Linked DNA regions of Homo sapiens. The protein of the gene in region 2 purifies or fractionates together with the protein of the main gene of each other region. This does not show direct contact. Each region holds a gene or a part of one and is shown on either strand. Other genes may lie near its edges.

Evidence for each region. Proteins that work in one complex are often made in the same cells at the same time.
Region 1: the proteins of FKBP6 (region 2) and ACOX3 purify together in Homo sapiens (affinity purification with mass spectrometry; 3 studies listed by BioGRID and IntAct, with this or other methods). This does not show direct contact.
Region 3: the proteins of FKBP6 (region 2) and PPIL2 purify together in Homo sapiens (affinity purification with mass spectrometry; 3 studies listed by BioGRID and IntAct, with this or other methods). This does not show direct contact.
Region 4: the proteins of FKBP6 (region 2) and CCDC88A purify together in Homo sapiens (affinity purification with mass spectrometry; 3 studies listed by BioGRID and IntAct, with this or other methods). This does not show direct contact.

What each region holds. Positions count from the first base shown.
Region 1 is NC_000004.12:8,392,224-8,395,723, reverse strand, and holds part of ACOX3 (peroxisomal acyl-coenzyme A oxidase 3), read left to right. Parts: intron 1-981; coding exon 982-1,104; intron 1,105-3,270; coding exon 3,271-3,391; intron 3,392-3,500. UniProt on the Homo sapiens protein: Oxidizes the CoA-esters of 2-methyl-branched fatty acids.
Region 2 is NC_000007.14:73,352,161-73,355,642, forward strand, and holds part of FKBP6 (inactive peptidyl-prolyl cis-trans isomerase FKBP6), read left to right. Parts: intron 1-3,482. UniProt on the Homo sapiens protein: Has an essential role in spermatogenesis. It is required to repress transposable elements and prevent their mobilization, which is essential for the germline integrity.
Region 3 is NC_000022.11:21,669,012-21,672,511, forward strand, and holds part of PPIL2 (RING-type E3 ubiquitin-protein ligase PPIL2), read left to right. Parts: intron 1-901; coding exon 902-951; intron 952-1,287; exon of another isoform or gene 1,288-1,365; intron 1,366-1,554; coding exon 1,555-1,600; intron 1,601-1,985; coding exon 1,986-2,048; intron 2,049-3,318; coding exon 3,319-3,370; intron 3,371-3,500. UniProt on the Homo sapiens protein: Has a ubiquitin-protein ligase activity acting as an E3 ubiquitin protein ligase or as an ubiquitin-ubiquitin ligase promoting elongation of ubiquitin chains on substrates.
Region 4 is NC_000002.12:55,287,342-55,290,856, forward strand, and holds the end of CCDC88A (girdin), read right to left. Parts: 3' UTR 501-3,515; downstream 1-500. UniProt on the Homo sapiens protein: Bifunctional modulator of guanine nucleotide-binding proteins (G proteins). Acts as a non-receptor guanine nucleotide exchange factor which binds to and activates guanine nucleotide-binding protein G(i) alpha subunits.

The DNA of each region.
Region 1 (3,500 bases), on a different chromosome or scaffold from region 2:
GGCAGCTCGGCGGTCAAGAGAGCGCACTGGGGCCACCATGCCTGGCCTTACCACCAAGGTCCACCCCCAGCTGGCTGTGTGCCCCCAGGCAAGGTCCTTAGCCTTTCTGTGCTCTTGCTTTATCATTTGTAAGTTAGAACTGATGATAAAACTTCTTCCTAGGATCAGTGTGAGGATTAACAAAGTTAGGGCATGGAGGCAGCTGGCGCCATGTCTGCTCAGCACTCTTGACACGTTAGACCATGGTGGTGATGGCGGTTTCCTCAGGATCCTCTCAGGCTTGTCCTGCCATGTACCCAGCCACCCACCCACCCATCCATGCATCCCCCCACCTGTCCACGCATCCCCCCACCTGTCCACGCATCCACCCACCCATCCATCTACCCATCTACGGATTCATCCATCCACCCACCCACACATCCACCTACCCACCACCCACCATCCATGCATCCATCCACCCACCCACCCACCCCCCCATCCAACAATAGGTGGACCCTATCCTGTTTCAGACAAAGTGAAAAAGACATGCACTCAGCCTTTCGAGGGGCTGCCAGCTCTGTGTGGGCCTCAGCTTTCCCATCTGTCCCAGGGTGACGGCCTCATCCTCACAGGCTCATGCTGTCAGCCAGTCAGTCCGTGTGCCGGGGAGTTGGCCCCTAGCAGTGCTGCCTTCTTAATTCACAGATAGACTGGCACTTTGTTCTGTAGTGACTTTGATGGGACAGCTGTGAATAGCGGCCATTTAGCGAATTGCGTTTGAGCTTGTCTGTCAAGGGCTATGGGTGAAAGCCGAACTGGCTGAGTTGAGAGCGTGTCAGGGTGAAGGCTTTCTGATGTGCCGGGAAGACATGTGAAGACCTTCAGCGCTAGTGGGTGTGTGGCCCTGACGGCCTCTCCCTGCACTGGCTTTCATGGTCCCTGGGATGGGCTGCCCTTCATGGGAACCACGATGTGTTCACGCAGGTGTCTTGTCTGTTCTAGCAATGGCGCTTGCTTCCATATCTGGCAGCTGTCTACGCCTTAGACCATTTCTCCAAGTCGCTCTTCCTGGACCTGGTGGAGCTCCAGCGAGGACTTGCATCGGGAGACCGCAGCGCCAGACAGGTGAGGTGGTGTCTGCTTCCTCAGCAGCATCGTTTAAATCTCACACGGTTGGAGCAGCATAGATTCAACCTTCATTTCAAAGCAAAATCAGTCCTTTGATTTGCGAGGACAGAGCATTCCTCCAGTTGTTCCCACCCACTCGGAGCTCTTGGCCTCTGCCGCGATTGAACGGGCTGGGCACGCGTCCACACCCCTGCCTCTCAAGGATGTGCTGACACGACTCCCGGTTCCAGTCTGTGAGTTCAGCTGTTGGTCTCCTTTTGAGAACATGACGGTTTTGCAAAATCCACGTTACCCGCCCCTCAGTGGATTTCATGGTTCTGAGCCTTTTGTAAACAGCTGCACAAAGGTCTGAATCCCACTGACTGGATTTGAGTTGACAGTCAGAGGATTTGTGCCAGAAACGAGCGTGCAAATCCCGAGATCAGCCTCGGCATAAAGAGACATCGGGAACGGATTTCTTTGTAGATGATTATGAACTGATTTTCCATTGTCCCTCCTGCTGCCTCCTGAGCAAGAGTGAAATGTGAATCAAAAGAAATAACCGTGTTTGAAAGCAGAGGAGAAACGCCACAGATTGCTGTTATGTACAACATCAGAAAAAGCCTGTATCTAATTAGCATATCTTGAAATATTATCGGTGTCCACATTCACGGCAGATGATGGCGAAGGGATGACCTGCAGGATTGATGGCAGAGCAAACCCCAGGCCTGGAGGCCTGAGGAGGGAGCGCTTCTGACCACTAAAGGGGTTAAGCCTGTGTTTTCCCTGGAGCGTGAGTCAGTGGAGCTTTTGCCAGCTGACACTTGCATTGTTCTCCTGTGAATAATGTTGTAAAGGGTGACCAGGCTGATTCTTTCTGAAACTCAGTGGTTTAACCCAGGCAGAGGAGGGCCTCAGCTCAGCCCCTTATGTGAAGTTGAAAACACTCATAAAATGGGTCACTGGACTTAGCATGCGTGTGTGTGTGTGTGTGTGTGTGCGTGTGTGTGTGTGTGTGTGTGCGTGTGTGTGTCTTCCTCTTAATTGTTTTTCCTTTTTAATTGTCTTTCTTTTTTAAAATTAAAAATTCTTCTTTTACTCTGAATCAGTCTCTTAAGTTTTTGTTTGTTTGTTTGTTTGTTTGTTTTTGAGACGGAGTCTCGCTCTGTTGCCCAGGCTGGAGTGCAGTGGTGCGATCTTGGCTCACTGCAATTTCTGCCTCCTGGGTTCAAGCAATTCTCTTGCCTCAGCCTCCCAGACTAGCTGGGACTACAGGTGCCCGCCACCACACCTGGCTAATTTTTTTTATTTTTCAGTAGAGACAGGGTGTCACCATGTTGCCCAGGCTGTTCTCAGACTCCTGAGCTCAACTGATCTGCCCGCCTCGGCCTCTCAAAGTGCTGGCATTATAGGCGTGAGCCACTGTGCCTGGCCCAGCCTCTTAAGTTTTCATCATTAGATATCAAGCAGAAGCAAAGGAGTCTTCTTTCTTTTTTTTTTCCCCTTAAAAAAAAGCCTGCAGCACCTGCTATTCCCAGGCGGTCTCCCATCCAAATACTAACCACGCCCGACCCTGCTTAGCTTCACGAGATCAGGCTCATTCAGGGTAGTTTGGCCATGGACAGCAAAGGAGTCTCAATAAAACATGTTAGGCCTGAGGGAGGCACGGTGAGCCCCCACACAGAGCAGACCATCAGTTACCGAGGCGCTTGCAGCCTTCTGGGAATGGACTGGTCCCGGCCCTTCCCTGTCCTGGGAGCGAGCACTGTCTGCGGTGCTGAGTCTGGTTCCCTGGCCTTTCTTCATGGTTTCGCTGCAAACAATTGCAACCTTCCATGGTGTGTCATTCACTTTGACGTTTGTGAACTTTATATAAAGTGGGCCATGACGCACATTCTTCTGCAGTTTGCTTCTGGGACCCGTGTTAGGGCCCTGAGAGCTATTTGCTGTGTAGAGCTGTGTTTTCATTGTTGTGAAATGGTATGAGCGTACCACAGTGTATCCATACTTGGATAAAGACCCTTTTTTATTTCTAATTACAATTAGGTTTCCTCTTCTGTCATTTTCGGGATGTCTTGTATTAGACTAGAGGTGATATGGTGGTTTGATGCTATTGCTGACTTATGACTTTTTGGTGTCTAAAGTCTCTTTTCACCTGTTCTTGTTGGATTCCCTCACCCAAAGGCAGAGCTTGGACGTGAGATCCACGCCCTGGCATCGGCCAGCAAGCCCCTGGCCTCGTGGACCACCCAGCAAGGAATTCAGGAATGCCGGGAGGCGTGTGGAGGACACGGCTATCTGGCCAGTAGGTTTTGGAGAAGCGCATGGTGGTTTCCTGTCCTTAGCCCTGCTGTTTGACTCTAGACCAGGGGTCGGCAGACTGCGGCCTGAGGACCAAATCCAGCCTGCCACCT
Region 2 (3,482 bases):
ATTATATTTCCTAGGCTGATCTCGATCTCCTGGCCTCAAGCGATCCTCCTGCCTCGGCCTCCCAGAGTGCTGGGATTATAGGCATGAGCCACCGCGCCCAGCCATGGAGCAGTCACATCTTTAAGATCACTGTGGAGTTGTTTATGCTTCATGAAGACCGTCAGATATCGGCTTAGTCTGTTTTTAATTTCTTGCGTTCATTAGGTGCATAAGCCCTGCCTCCAAGCATACATAATCCCAAACACCAACCTGGATAATTAAGTGTACAGGTAGTGAGTGAAAGAAGTGAGCCTAAGCAATAAGGAATTGACATCAAGCCAGTGCCTTGTACCTTCTAGGGAGAGCATGAGTCCCCGCCAGCTTTGCTGGCTGACCCCCATTCTGCAGGTGCTGATCCTGTTCTCAAGACCTTTGGTTGTAGCTGTTATTGACTGTCATACTTTTGATGCTCCCCTACGCTCCCAAGCAGCCACCGACCCAGGGTGAAGCTGAGATGAACTGGGGTGAGCCTCAGAGGTTCAAGAATCCAGAGAAGGGTTTTCAAATCTAATAGATAAGTGAAGAGCTATGAGCAAAAGTTCTCTCTAGCTCAGAGGTCACTCAGACATTCACAAGGTGAGAAGGATGTGGTCTGCCGTCACTGTGAGGGCACCCACAGCAGTCATTGTCAGCATCAGTCCAAACAGAAAAGGCAGCAAGAGGCAGACAGAGGGGCATCTCCAGGATGTTTGGCATCCTGAGGTCATACAGCTTCATTTTTTTGGTGAGCTGAATATCATGGCCATGAATGCGAGCAAATCTGCACTAACTTCCTTTTGCTTCTCCAAGAAATGGCCTAGAGAGGCTGCCTGCATTTCTTGGCTAGTGGCCCCTTCCTCTTCTTCAAAGACAGCGGCATGATATCTTCCAATATTTCTCCCTCTCTCCCTTTCTGTCTCTCCCTCTCTCTCACCCTCTCTGTGAATCTCTCATTCAGCCCCTCTCTCCCCTCTGCTTCTGTCATTTTGTCTCCTCCTTTTTCTGACCCTCCTGCCTCCCTTTTACGAGGATCTGATTACATTGGGCTGACCAAGATAATCGCCCAGCTCAAGATCCTTCATTTAACCACAGAATCCCTTCTGCCATGTATGGTAATGTATTCGTGGGTTCCGGGAATTGGAACAAGGATATCTTGGGGGGCATTTTCCCATCTCTCATACTCTGTTACAGATCAGCATCTGTGAGGGACTACACATCTTGCCAATGCAGAGATAACTCAGCACTCTGCATCCTCAGCATTCTCGGCTTAATCCTTTCCGTCCCAGATGAGATCATCCTGACAGCCGTCTTTCAGAACATTTCCTTTCTCGTGCTCCCTTCTGGTGGCTGGGGCCTGATGGACACAGCTCACCTCATCTTTCTGCTGTTTGTTTACTGCACTTGAGGGTTGCTGTACTGTTTACATTGTTAACAAATGCTAGGTTTGCTACAACCCCACATCAAGCAAGTCCGTTGGTGCCATTTTTCCAACAGCATGTGCTGAATTTATTTCTCTGATTTACATTTTGGTAATTATCACAGTATTTCTTTTTTTCTTCTTTTTTTTTTTTTTGAGGCAAAGTCTCGCTCTATTGCCCAGCCTGGAGCACAGTGGCACGACCTCAGCTCACTGCAACCTCTGCTTCCCAGGTTCAAGCAATTCTTCTGCCTCAGCCTCCCCAGTAGCTGGGATTACAGGCGTGCGCCACCACGCCCGGCTTATTTTTGTTATTTTTAGTAGAGACGAGGTTTTACCATGTAGGCCAGGCTGGTCTCAGACTCCTGGCCTAAAGTGATCCTCCTGCCTTGGCCTCCCTAAACCTTGTTTTTAAACAAGCGTGGCAGTTTGGATGGCACTTTGACCCTTCTTTGACCATGTATCACAGCACAGTGGCAGCTGGTGGTGGTGAGCTGCAGTTGTTGGAGGAAGTGCAGCAGAGCCATGCTGTGAGGCCTGGCCCACCCCCAAAACCGGGAGGTACCTGCAGGCGCTCTCATTCCATGTCAGCCTGGAAAGGGTGGGCTCCAGACCACTCAGCTCCATGCGCATTCTCATGGGACTAGGTGGCCAGTTGTGACAGTGGGGAAGTAATCGCACTCCCTGCAGAGGGACGTGGCCAAGGGAGGAGCAGAGAGCTGGGCTGGTGGAGCACGAGGGTGGCTGCAGGAAGTGCAGCAGTCAGCATGGAGTGGCCGCCAGAGAGCCAGGGCCACAGGTTGGGTGGGGAGAAGCAGGTCAGGGAGTCCCTGCAATGAGGGTTGGCTCTGAGAAGCCGCCTGGCAGGAGTGGAAGGGGCAGGTGGAGGACCCAGCAGGCCGGAGGACTGCCGCCTTGCGGGCTGGCCAGAGTGTCACAGCAGAGTCCCAAGGGGTGAGGACTCCTCAAAAAATTTTCCCCCTCAGTTGATATTTTTGGAGATATCCAGATTAGGTTCTTAAGATTGGCTGAGTAATGCATTTTGGGAAGGGGAACCAGTTGAATGGTTTCAGGAAGGTCTTTCATTCTCCACGTTTACTATGTACAGCCTTGGTTCATCTGCTGGGATTTTGAAGAGGCAGCCATAACTTTGATCAGTGTTTTTGAAGGGCTGAGTGACCCATGCAGGGTTCCAGGGTCTTCTCACCAGATGATGTTCATGGCTGAGTTTACTCTAGTTCCCCGTTGCAGGGTACAGGGAAGTGCTTGAGGCTGGGGCTGCGAGGCAGGGCTGGCACACGACACCCACCGCCACCGTGGGAACGGCACCTGCTGAGCCTTGATCCTCAGCTCTTTGTCCTCCGATTTCCGACAGAAACATCCTGGGCTCTACAGCCTCCAGCCCGTGGCTCCGCGATTACATCACTCCTCTGTCTTCTCTGTTACATTTCACACCCTTCTTTGATTACTGCTTATTATGTTGTGCGATTATGGTGGACACCACTGGCATTGCTGCTTGGGTTTCTAGTTCACAGTCCCTGTGCCTTTTCCGAGGCCTGGGGCCCACCCGCCGTGGAAGCAGCCTGGTTCGTAGGAATGGATTCAGCTGGAGTCGGCTGTGGACCTTTGTCTGTGTTCGCTGCCTCAGCCTGACTGCCATTGTCTTTGTCGATCTCCGGACTTATTTCTCCTTGAGCCACGGATACAGCTTTTTTCTGACTTTGCACCTCTGTGCGATACATGTATTGGGTTTTCAAAATGAAATGTGAGCTGAGCTTTCCTATGTTGGCGCATTCTCGTTTATGCTAAAGTGTTACTTTTTATTGGCTCCGATTTGAAAATTCAACTACCTGAACCTCGTGGGATCCCTTCGTCTGTAGGGAGCTTGAAGTTGATCTCCCCCCATCTGCATTCATGCCTGGAGAATATTGATTTTAGGGCTTATTCCTAAAGTCATTTCATGGGACACACCCTAGATCAAAACTTTCTTTTTTCACTTGATTATTATTAAACTTGTCATTATGGACATTTTCAAACGTCTCCAAAG
Region 3 (3,500 bases), on a different chromosome or scaffold from region 2:
TCTATTTTTTTTTTTTTTTTAGTAGAGACTGGTTTCACCGTGTTAGCCAGAATGGTCTCCATCTCCTGACCTCGTGATCTGCCCGCCTTGGCCTCCCAAAGTGCTGGGATTATAGGCGTGAGCCACCTTGCCCGGCCGGTTTTTTTTGTTTTTTGTTTTGTTTGTTTTTGAGACAGAGTCTCCCCCGTCCCCCAGGCTGGAGTGTAGTGGTGCTGTCACAGCTCACTGCAGCCTCAACCTGCCTTCCTGCCTTAGTCTTTGGAGTAGCTGGGACCACAGGTGTGAGCTGTCACACCTGGCTAAGTTTTAAATTTTCTTGTAGAGACAGATTCTCGCTTTGTTGCCCCAGCTGTTCTCCAACGCCTGGACTCAAGCAATCTTCCTGCCTTGGCCTCCCAAACTGTTGGGATTATAGGTGTGAGCCACTGTGCCTGGTCTCCATGTCTGTTGTGTTTATCACTGTGTGGCTGACATATAGTAGGTGTTTTTTTGTTTGTTTGTTTTTTTGAGACAGAGTCTCACTCTGTCACCCAGGCTGGAGTACAGTGGTGTGATCTTGGCTGACTGCAACCTCCGCCTCCCGGGATCAAGCAATTCTCTGCTTCAGCCTCCCGAGTAGCTGGGATTACAGGCACCCACCACCATGCCCAGCTAATTTTTGTATTTTTAGTAGAGACGTGGTTTCACCATGTTGGCCAGGCTTGTCTTAAACTTCTGACCTCTAGTGATTCGCCTGCCTCGGGCTCCCAAAGTGTTGGGATTACAGGCGTTAGCCACCGTGCCCGCCCCATAGTAGGTATTTAGTAAGCATTTGCTGAGTAAGCAAAGATTACTCACTTCCAAAGACTTCGTCCTCTTTATAAAGGTGGTGGTGGTAGCATTATCTTCCTCTCTTCTTCAGGTACATTACCTGTGCTGAATACACTCACTTTTATGGTGGCAAGAAGCCAGGTAAGGCATGCAGTCTTTCTGTTCCCCGTTGGGGGAGTGGTATTAAGGAACTGTGTCTTCAGGATACAGTGAGCTGTAAAAATAGACAACAAGAACACGGAAACTATGGTAGACGAATGGGCTGAGGACACAGTTCATGAAAGAGAAATATACTCAAGATAGAAGAACCTGCTTCATCTTAGTGGTGATTTTTGTAAAATGTAATTTAAAATATTCCCCGATGCTGGGAGCTAAGTAAAAAATAAATAAGTAAATGAAATACAAAATTACATGTACATTTAAATGTTTTTTCTCTATCAAGTTTATAAGGAATAAAAAGAATGATAATATTTTCAGCTGTCAAAACTATCAAGACTACAATAACAAGAGCACTGTCATAATTTTAATGGAAGTAAAAAGTATGCACTTTTCCCAGTAAGTTCTTTTTTGATGTACCCCAAGTGTTTTGGTTTATCTGTTAAAAGGTTTTTAATCCACAGCAATTGCTGTACTTAAAAATTTGCATGAACTTTTTCATAAGCTGTAACTGAATTGCTAGCAGGTGCACATAGATGAAATACTTTACAGAGTAAGATTTCTGTTTTTTATTTCATTTTTAAACAGATCTCCCACAAACAAATTTTCGTCGTTTACCTTTTGACCACTGCAGGTAAGAGTTTTGCGAGTTTACCTTTCCCTTGTAATTGTTCTCTGATCCTGTCTGATAGTGAATCTGCCCCTTGTGGATGTGGGGTTATGCGTAAAAGTGTGCCTTGAAGATGTGGCCCTTCAGTTCATGTTGGGAGAAGATGCAGAGTCCTCGTCATGATGTTAGGAGCTTGCCTTGGTGTTGGATCCTGCTCTAGACCTTCACCAGGGGTGGCACAAACACTATTGTAGTTGGAGGAGAAGGTTGGTGAGAGAGGGAGGTGGCCAGGCTGCCCAGAGAGGGCTCCCTGGGACAGCATTTCAGGAGGTCACCATGCCAGTCTCAGCCAGCCCACATCCTGACCAGGGTGCGTGGCAACTCACCAGGAATGACTGTCCTTTTTCAGTCTCTCTCTGCAGCCCTTTGTCTACCCAGTCTGCACTCCCGATGGCATCGTCTTTGACTTACTGTGAGTTTTTCCTTGAATTTTGATCTAACAAATGTGAGATTCTCAACACCCATTAAGGAAGGGGACCCTTGGTACCCTTGGGTAGGGCTCTTGGGCACACAGAAGTAACAGCTAGGGCCTTGGGGACATGGCAGCAATGCTGCTGTGACCCTTGGGCAGGCAGCTCTAGTTGTCAGGTACTGCTGTCACTGCCTGGAATGGGGTAGACCACCCCCTACCCCTCCAAGTGCAGGCATGAGCCACTGCACCTGGCCTGAAAATGAATTTTTAGGAAATTTCAGCCTTATTTTAGAAAAAGAAAATTTTACCACAGTCCCACTATCCAAGATAACCACTGTAAATATGCTAATTTTTTGTGAACTTATTTGTAGTAACATGATTGAGATAACACTGTGAACACTGTGAAGTGTTGACAGGTAACACTCTGTGGATCTATTTATTCACTTGGTTGTGATGAGAGCTTTTTTCCCCGTGTGATTCAGAATTCTCTGAAAGTATAGTTTTTCTTTGTTCTTTTCTTTTTTTTTTATTTGAGACAGGGTCTCACTATGTTGCCCAGGCTGGTCTTGAACTCCTGCGCTGAAGCAGTCCTTCCACCTCAGCCTCCTGAGTAGCTGAGATTTCAGGCACACACCATCACCATGCCTGGCTTGAAAGTATAGTTTTTGATGCTAGCTTAGTATTTAATTATACAGATGTATCAACATTTATGACGGAGTGGTGGCTTATGTCTGTAGTCCCAGCACTTTGGGAGGCTGAGGCAGGAGGATCTCTTGAACCCAGGAGTTTGAGACCAGCCTGGGCAACATGGTGAGAACCTGTGTCTACAAAAAAGTGCAAAAATTAGCCAGCCATGGTGGTGTGCACCTGTAGTCCCAGCTACTTGGAAGCTGAGGTGGGAGGATCGCTTGAGCCCAGGGGTTGGAGGCTGCAGTGAGCCATGACTGAAACACTGCACTCCAGCCTGAGTGACAAGGCGAAACCTTGTCTCAAAGAAAAAAAACCCAAACCATTTACTTACTCATTTTCACCTGTAGTTTTTGTTGTTTATACATAACTACAGTAATAACTCTGAACATATTTTGAAACCTATGTATCCACAAATATCCCCCAACTTCCTGAGACAAGATGAGGAGCTCTTCCTCTCCTAAAGTGAAGCAAGACCCCTTCACAGGCCTCTAACCTGGAAGCAGCCCTGCAAGACCACAGTGTTGTTACCAGGTGGCGCCTAAGCACCCTGGTGATGCTTTCTGTTCTGTCTTCCCTTCAGGAACATTGTTCCATGGCTTAAGAAGTACGGGACCAACCCCAGCAATGGAGAGGTAGGTGGCTGTGCAGGAGTTTCAGTGATGCTAGTGAATGCTATCCTCTCACTTCTCCTTTTGTTCTGGTGGTTTTCATGAACACAGGAACATGGGAGAGAACCGTTCATGGGGCCCAGTGAGGAGGGAC
Region 4 (3,515 bases), on a different chromosome or scaffold from region 2:
TGTGTTACTAAAAGGCAAAATAAAAGTAATGACTTTATTCTAAGGTTCCTCTTAGTTTTTACATACTCGGTATTCTATCTCTAACACAAAGTAGCCGTTTTAGGTTGCTTTGCATATGAAATGAAGGTACTAATGAATACACAGAAATTAAGTACCTTAGGTATCTGGTCTAATTGCCCTCCCCACCTTATAGTGAAAACAGGCCCAGAAAAACTGACCAGCCCAAGGATGAGGCCAGTTCCTTTGTCTCCCAAAGTCTAAGTGAAAATGGGAGATTCATTTGTGCAATCTATTAGATTACATTTAAACCTATTTTGGGACTGATAAAATTGACAGATGCTCTTTCTCTCCAAACCCCTAATACTTATCACAAAATGATATGACAGAATCAACTAAACAAGGTCATGGGTTATGTCTGACGATAGTTCTCTAGGGAAAATGGAAAGAAATAAAATAACACTTGGCTAAAATGATATCATTTTTAAATGATTACTAACCAGTTGTTACAAAAATCACCTCTTGGTTTTATTTCTTTTTATATTAGTTTGATACGTGAATGTTAGTCCAACTTAATTTTTGAAGGAGAAACAAAATGAAAAATGTTTTTTAAAAAACAAACAGTGGTATCTCTTGTCATGAGTTGGATGCCTGTGACTGACATCAGGTATTGCCAAGTAATAAACATTTTGCCATTCAACTCTAAATCCCTTATTAGCATTAGTTTTAAAGGAAATGTTACAGCTTTTATATTATTTGATTTGGTATTTAATAACAGTTATAAGTACAATGGTAGACACTGAAAAAGAAAACCCTTAATAGAAAAGAAAAAGACAATTTAAAATTAGATTTTGTTGAAGGGTGTTATAAGTGCAACTTTATCCATATGCATTCCTTTTAAGGCATTTTCATTGTCCAAATATCTCAACATGTACATCAAGGTTTATATTATAAAATGGGCTCCTTTTGTATTCATTCAAGACTTAAAGAAAAAATACATCTCAGGACTAAGTGTAGCTGAAAAGAAAAACACAAAAATTCACCACTCACAAAAAGTAACTTAAAATACAAAAGTCATTTAGTATACATTATTACTCCCCATTGTAATTCCAGATTTGGTACAGTATCTTTTTCATTTCCTGACATAAACCATTAAGACAGCACAGGCTGTAGTACTTCATTGTGAGGTGGCTACAACTCTATAATATGCACAGTGATTTTAAAATAGGCTTTTTGCATGCCTTGCATGAAAGGTGCTACATACAAACCTGTTTTGTGAACTCTTTGGTAACCACCAATTTAAAAATTTGGATGAAAGCATTTCCACATGGACAGATCTGAAGCACATTATTGGAGCTCTGAGCCAAAGCTATTACCCTGTATATTGATTCTTCAGTTTCCTTGAGGGGTTAGGTGTTGATTTAGAATACAGCCAGATAATTTAAAGCATGTCAGGCCCCGGTTAGGAAAATGAAAATGGCTCCGATTCGTTTCCAGTTGGCTTTATTATTGTTTGGCAGAAGTTGTTTAGGGGAGAAGAGTGGCTTCCTACAAAGTTTGCTTCTCAAGGTATACTGGAGAAAGTAAAATATTCATGTGGTTACTACTGTCTAGTCGTTTCTTGAAATGGTATGAAAAAAGTGTGATGAATATAATTGAGATTATTCATATTTTTGTAGTCTCAATGTGTTCCCTTGGTTGTCTCTTTAATTGTCCCTTCTCAGGGTCAGCCTACTCAGATTCAGTACTTTACACGTTGTTTTCAGCATTTTCTGCTTGAAGCACTAATGCACTTAACCCAGCATGTTCTGTATTTTAGGATATTAGTGTTCTGGAGAGGTCAAGCTGTAATGTCATTCGCCCTCATTGGGCTACATCACCACCCATTAAATTTCAGCTTTTCAGTAATTGTTCTGGGATGTGTTCTAGTTGTGCAAATTAGATGCTAGCTAATATAAATCTAAGTTACCCACTAACTGTATTTAGCCATAACATAATTTCTATGTTTACTTTTATCCACCTAAAAATGAATGTACATTTTTTGACATGCAATTGTCTCTAGACTGCTCTGATACCTATTACCAATGTGCTACTTGAATCCAGGGAGTTATGAGAGAGAGAGATGTTTCAAAGTCTACGGAAAAGGTTTTAGATATTTCTGTTGTGCATTATTTTTGTATGTTAGTAAGAATCCTTTGTATTTCCATTTACATAGCACCTTTCATCCAAGATTTTCAAAATGATTTAACGTTAACAGCATTTGGTGGTAAAACCTAAGTTACCGGTGGCATTGAAGTACGTAAGTAAGCTCAAGTTCTCTAAGTTCCATTTCAATTTAAACATGCTCTCTTTTTTATTGATGGTCTTTTGGAAATTAGACTGTGAACACAACATTGCTACTGGCCTACGAAAGAGAGAGAGAAAGAGGGAGAGAGAAAGAGAGAGAGAGAGAGAGAGAGAGAGAGACTTTTCTTATGGTTACTGGGTTAGTGATGAAACCCACAACTCATAAACCACACACTATGGAATATGGAATTATTCCAAAAAGTTCTTCAGAGCTGGTAATGAAAGCCTAAGAAGTACACTGTTAAAATTTTAAAAAGTCAGTATGTTTCTCATTTCAGACCTTGAAGATTACTCTGATATTGATGTTAAATAATGAATTTGCATTAATGAGTATCAATGCATTTTTTGATTTCATAAGAAAATAAAACTGTGATATAAAATTGGAACTACTAAAAAAATTGATGTTTCCCTGGGTTAACTAAATCTATTTTTTTGTGCTTCTTCCAAATGTTTAAAGGTAACAAATGCATACAAATATTTCAAAAGTACCAATAACAGTTATCAACTTTAATGTAATATCATAAAGGAGAAAAAAATCATTAATAAATGATAGCCTTAATTATAAATGAGTTTCTGGCAAAATGCAGATCATAGTAACTTATTTACATTATTTTTGCCATAAGAAAACTTCTTAAGCAACAGTCAGCTCTCAAGTTAAAAAAATGCACACGCATACATAACCCAATACCAAAGAAAAGAAATGAGTTAAAGCACAACAGCTTTATCTTGGGAATGCCATTTGCTGAAAAACCATCTTACTAAAAAAAAGTTTCAGAAAAACACTCTTTACCATGGGTTAACTTATGAATGCTTAGTGTTGCTTAATGGGAAATATGGAAAGATTAATATCACTATAAATTTTTTATAACTCCTATTTCATTATGGATTTTTCAGATTTATCTTATAAACTGAATTTCTTTTGCATCAAAATAATTGGCTTTAAGAAAAAAAAAGTATCAACACATGCAGTCTGCTAACCAAATAAGGCTCTGACATGCCAAAACAATTTTCTCTGTATCTTGCTATATAGTACATTCCACAAAATACTACAGCATTTAATTTAGGTTTACACAACTAAATATAAATGGCTAGATTTTGGCTAACACTTAGCAGAAGCATTAAGCAAACATGGATAAATTCATAAAACAAATGATGAAAAAAGCAGATTGTTC